Linked DNA regions of Homo sapiens. The protein of the gene in region 2 interacts with the protein of the main gene of each other region in a pairwise test. Each region holds a gene or a part of one and is shown on either strand. Other genes may lie near its edges.

Region 1 (2,518 bases), on a different chromosome or scaffold from region 2:
ACAGCTGCTTTGAATTTGTTAGAGGAAATTACCCTAATAGAGGAAAGAGGCCAGGCAAATGGTCTTTAGTTTTAGACCACTGATTGTTGTCGAGAATTATTCCAAAAACTTAAATTCTATTTTAAATCCTTATTGTGAAAAGACAGCCATATTTTAATTTTTACTTATAGTTACCATCTTCATCCTTAGTAATCTATAGCTTGAGCAGCCCTAATCCGAAAATCTGAAATCCGAAATGCTCTAAGATCCGAGATTGTTTGAGCACCGACATGACGCCACAGGTGGGGAATTCCACACCTGACCTCATGTCTATGGGTTGCAGTCAAAAACAGTCAATTAAAAATATTGTATAAAATTACCCTCAGGCTATGCATATGAGGTGTATATGAAACATAAATGAATTTTGTGTTTAGACTTGGGTCCCATCCCAGAGATATTTGATTATGTATATGCAAGTATTTCAAAATTTGAAAAAATCTGTAATCTGAAACACTTCTGGTTCCAGGCATTTCAGAAAAGAGATACACAAGTTCTGTACTGAGTTATTATGGTTTACCAAAATTTGGTATACATAAAGCAAAATATAGCATGTTCCCCAAGCTCTTGCAGAAAAGTAGGAATAGATGAAGTTGAGTTGACTACTGGATCTTTTACCAGAACAAATGGCCTTCTATCAAAAAATGTTTGCAAACTCCTGCGTTAGACAGTTCTTTGGTGATCCATCAGTATTGTCTGAAGCTAAGCATTAGTATTTTTCAAAGTTCGGGAATAATGTACTTGGATCATAAGGCTCATTCCAACATGCCACAGGTGAAGCTCATTCATTATGCAATAGTGAAGCAGATAAGAAGTAATGGGAGACAATCTTTTGCCTTTCAAAATATTATAAGCTCTGGATTTTCATAACAGAGTTCTGGAACAGGTAAGTGATTTGTCAAGAAAGGCTTTTGTAAGCCATGTTGAAATGGCTGTGCAGTAAGTGAACAGCCTCTATCTTTGCAAGAAATTAACAGCCACACCAACCTCTTGCTCTTTAAAGATATTAGAGAGAAAGCCTATCATCATCTGATCTTGGAACTGTTTAATGGATTTTCTCTCTAGTAGTTAAATTGAAAGAATGATGCTCAGGTCTATTGTTTTCTCTTGGGAAAAGCCATACCACCCTGGTTGGTTCTTTCAACCCTCTCCTGACCCAAGGATAGAGAACACTACATTCCAAGACATCATGAGTGCCCCTCACTCTCATCTTTGGGAAATGAGGAGCAGCATCCATTCAAAGTGCAGTCAAAGGTAAACCTCACTGCCAAGTTTCCCTCAAGCTGAGAAATTGGATGTATCAGAAAGGGTGGAGTTTCAGGACTTGCTCTAAAAATAATGTGTCTGGATCTCGGCCACCATCTTAATGCTCTTCCTCTCTAGGCCCTCTCCCCATAAATGTCAAATGTGGCTGTCAGTAGGTTGAGCCTGAAAATAAAATCCCCTCACTTCCATCAAGAAATAGCTCCAAACTTAGAGTGTGTGCTCAAAATATTCATGATGAAATCATAATCCTATATTTATAGTCTTTTGGATTGTGCATGAAATTCTGTTTCCCATGGTGGTTTTCGTTGAAGTGGGCACAGAGTGACCAAGAAAGCATTAGCTGCAGGGAAATGCTGTTCCGTATCATTCTGAACTGGTTGGTTGTGAGACACCCTCCCTCTTCCCTGTGCCCTACCCGCTGCCTGATGAGTTGGGTCTACCACCCACCCCATTCCCAGCAGGTCCCCTCTTTGATTGGTCCTGTCTTGTCCTCCAAGAAGAGCTGGCCTTCCGAGAAGGAAGTGGGGTGGGTACCTAAGATTATTCCCCTTTCCTCTGCATCTTTCCTGTCCTAGACTTCCTCCCCGTTCTCACTGAGGGAGATGGTGTGGACCTTAATGGTTGGAACTTGATGGTTCTTGTCAAGGCTGGGGGTTGAGGGCCCTACACAGCAGCAGACCTGCAAAAAGCTTTTACTTCTCACCCGGGCTGTGGTACAGGAGGATTGGTCTTTGGACACTGTAATCCTGGCAGATCCACGGGGCATGGAAGAGAAAAATTTCCATTCACAAACGCCATCCGTCTTGGAGATCCTGTAGAAGGTCTCTCTTGATCCCACGGGGATGCGCACCATGTCCTTGTGTTGCCCTTCCACGGCCTGGCTGGGCGGGTGCAGGGTGTAGCCCAGGGCATGTTTGGAAGACTGCTTTCTGCAGAGACACTGGATTCTCAAGACATTCTGAAAGGCCTTTTTGAACTCTTGGCTGGAGCATGGGTATATGATGGGGTTGATGCAGCTGTTTAGATATCCGAGCCAAAATACTATTTTAAAAACTGTTTCAGAGGGCTTGAAATCAGGGAAGAAAGACCCTGGAAGAAAACACACAGATTTATACATATTATTTGAAAGCCAGCAAGCCAATTGGCTAGGAAAACAATCAAACAGACATCTTTCTGTATTTTTAAACGGTTAAAATGATCCCAAACACATATGAGT
Region 2 (3,533 bases):
TCTGGCATGCCTGGGGACAGGAACAGAGATGCCTTTGAACATACCAAGCAGCCTAGTTAACAAGGAGGTCGAAGAAGGCCAGCAATGAATTTTCAGAGAAAAAAGGAAAATGAATTACAAATAATTTGGCAACGCATATCAAGATCCACTGTTGATACCACCTGGCATACAGGAAAAGGCAGCTGCTAGCTTTCCAGTAGGGGAAGCTGCAGATGCCACCCTAACCAAGTTGCTGCAGTTAATACTGCTGGGACACAGTATTTAACTGCAGAATTTCAACTATGGGAGCCACAGACGGCCTCTGCCTCCCGAGGTGATGCACTGACAGAGCTCAGCATCATGTCTGCAGGATTTCTATCAACAGCGCACAGACCTCAATCTCACAATGAAGAAATACCCAATATCCCCAAAGGAAGAGAAATTTAACTCTCATACAATACAAAGGAACTGTTCCAGATTAAAAATGGCTAAAGATATAGGACAACAGCATGAGAAACGCATAAATCTATATTTCCTTTTCCAGTGAAGCACATTACTCGAAGAAATGGTGAAATGTGAATAAAATCTGTGGATTAATTAGTTAACTATTTTTCAGTGTTGTTACTGATGTTGCTCAGTGTACTGTGATTACATGAGAGCCTTATATTTAGGAAATATGTCCTGAAACACTTGGGGTAAAAAGATGTCATGTTTGCAACTTACTCTTAAATAGTTCAGAGAAAAAGTGTATGTCTATGTGTAAAGCGAAGGAAAGACAGAAAGCAGCTAAAAAAGCAAATGTAGGCCAGGCGCGGTGGCTCACGCCTGTAATCCCAGCACTTTGGGAGGCAGAGGCAGGTGGATCACGAGGTCAGGAGATCGAGACCATCCTGGCTAATATGGTGAAAAACCCCGTCTCTAATAAAAAATACAAAAAATTAGCTGGGCGTGGTGGCAGGCGCCTGTAGTCCCAGCTACTTGGGAGGCTGAGGCAGGAGAATGGCATGAACCCAGGAACCAGAGCTTGCAGTGAGCTGAGATCGTGCCACTGCACTGCAGCCCGGGCGAGAGAGCAAGACTCCGTCTCCAAGAAAAAAAAAGCAAATGTAGTAAAATGTGAAAACAAAAGGAAATCTGGGTAAAAGGTATCTGGGGAATTCTTTGTCCTATTTTTACAACCTTTCAGTAAGTATGAAATTATATAAAAATAAAAAAATTTTAAAGTTACACGGTCCCCTTTAAACCAAAGCAAACGTTACAGGAAAAACTGATCCTCTTGATCCAAAGATGTATTATAGCTGGAAATAGGGAAGCCTGTCTCAGGAGTTCTTTCAGGGAGTTCTTTTACTGCTGGAGCTAGTGCTGCCAGCAGTAAAAATGCCTTGGCCTTATGAGCCAGGTTAGAAGAATGGCACATGCACAGCTTCTCCACACCATTAGCTTTCAGTTACAAACACATACTCAGAGAGAGAAAGCAGCTAATGTAAGGGCCCAAACTAAACCGGACAAAGGATTGCAGGTAAGAGCAAAACTCACCTCTTGCCCATATTTACCCCACCCCTTCTCAAATAAAAAGCATACCCTAAAAGATAAATAAGGAAACGAAGCAAACCCAGGGCTGCTGATAGGTGAAGCAGTGAAAGGAGTGAGAGTAAAAATTAAACCCTGTGTGAATTTTCAGCAGAAAAGCAGTGAGCCAAGCCCAGAAGACCATGAATGGAAAAAGAATATGAAGCCACACTGTAAGTTCAGCCTACAGAAAGCGTATCACAGATATTACATCAATGGAAGAGGAATAAAGGGTTCAGAGGGAAAACAGGTTACCTAGGAAAAAATGGGGGTGGCTCTTGCCTGTAATCCCAGCACTTTGGGAGGCTGAGGTACGTGCATCACCTGAGGTCAGGAGTTCGAGAGCAGCCTGGCCAACATGGTGAAACCCCATCTCTATTAAAAACACACACACACAAAATTAGCTGGGCGTGGTGGCGGGCACCTGTAATCCCAGCTACTTGGGAGGCTGAGGCAGGAGAACTGCCTGAACCTGGGAGGCGGAGGTTGTAGTGAGCTGAGACAGTGCCATTGCACTCCAGCCTGCAACAAGAGTGAAACTCTGTCTTTAAAAAAAAAAAAAAAAGGGAGGCATCTGTCCTATATGATCTCATCCAAACCAGCAGGCTAGGAAAAGGGAATGGACCGTGGGCATGTGCTTTTATCAAAACCACGCTGGCAGGCTACTGCTACCTGGGTATTGCAAGAATCTGTCCAGGGAGCAAGAATGCCAGCAGGAAAGCAGCCCCTTCAACAACAAAAGCCAGGCCAGAGCACAGTGCAGAAGAGGGAGGCAGCCAGCTTAGAGGCTCCTGTTCCCTTTAGCAATTCTCCTCTCTTCATGACCTAAAGGTGGAGTTGCCAGAGGAAGAAAAATAGGTCATCCATGTGAGGTTTGTTGCCCAGTTCCCTTCACTGTGAAAATTGAGACAACGGTCCTTCTTTTCTTTCTTCCTGAAATAAAGAGGTAATTTTAGGAATACATTCTTTTTTGTTTGTTTGTTTTGTTTTTATTTATTTATTTTTTTATCTATTGCTGCTTAATTTGTTAATTAAGGAATATACTCTTACACAAACAGGGAATGGCCTCTCTTCCCTCTAAGGAATCTTACATATGTATGCGCAAGGTACCATCGTTTTTAAACCTAATTAAGATATTACTCATTCTTGTTGGTGCCCAATTCCACACCAATCTGCTCTTTAATGCCAGACTGATGGCTCTAACAATCCTTATTAACTCCTTTTTGTGGCTTCAAGGAAAAACAAAAACCTCTTCTCTCATTCACCACCTCTAGGCCAGGAGAAATTATTTTTGGTTCAGGCTTTCACAGTGGGGGTCTGAAAGTGACCAGTCAAGAAAAGGATGACTCAGCAAAAGGAGAGCTCTGAAGGTCCCTGAGGCGGCAGGGTCCAGCATATTAGGTCACATGGTATGACCTGGAACAGATACAGTCTTTCCAAATGTGGCAGGACCGGGAGAGCTTCTCACCAGGAGGGAACCGCCGCAATGACCGCCGGACGTCCAGCAACACTTGTTGGTAGTCCTTGCTCATCTGCCGTAGGTTCTTCCCTATTGAAGGAAAAGGCACGTTATTGCAGGAATGCCTGAGAAGCCAGACCAGAAGCAAAACATTCTGGGATGACACAAAAGGCCTAGAGGGCACATGTCAGCTTCTCCTGAAGAGGATGATATGACTCAAGATACAACATTTGGCAGGGAATCCCTAGTTTGGTTCCAAACATTATGTTTCCTGCAAGTCACAATGACCCTAAGAGAAGGGAGCACAGACTGCCCAGGAGACAATACAGCAGGGTGGGAAGGAGAGCAAAGACGTAAGGAGGCCAGGCGCCTCGTGCAGAAGGCCACTGTGCATCACTGGGAACTGCTCTGAATTTCAAAGTCCACAGCTACAAAATGAGGATATTCCAAGGATCAAATAAAATCATGAATGTGGGAACAACAGACCACTGAAAAAAACCCTAACGCCTATAAAGTTGTGGGAGCA

The links.
Region 1: the proteins of TBC1D20 (region 2) and ADRA1A interact in a two-hybrid assay, tested with the Homo sapiens proteins (one large-scale study listed by BioGRID and IntAct).

The regions. Positions count from the first base shown.
Region 1 is NC_000008.11:26,768,276-26,770,793, forward strand, and holds the end of ADRA1A (alpha-1A adrenergic receptor), read right to left. Parts: intron 2,392-2,518; coding exon 1,874-2,391; 3' UTR 534-1,873; downstream 1-533. UniProt on the Homo sapiens protein: This alpha-adrenergic receptor mediates its action by association with G proteins that activate a phosphatidylinositol-calcium second messenger system. Its effect is mediated by G(q) and G(11) proteins.
Region 2 is NC_000020.11:442,034-445,566, forward strand, and holds part of TBC1D20 (TBC1 domain family member 20), read right to left. Parts: intron 3,098-3,533; coding exon 3,017-3,097; intron 11-3,016; coding exon 1-10. UniProt on the Homo sapiens protein: GTPase-activating protein (GAP) specific for Rab1 and Rab2 small GTPase families for which it can accelerate the intrinsic GTP hydrolysis rate by more than five orders of magnitude. Also shows GAP activity for RAB18 GTPase.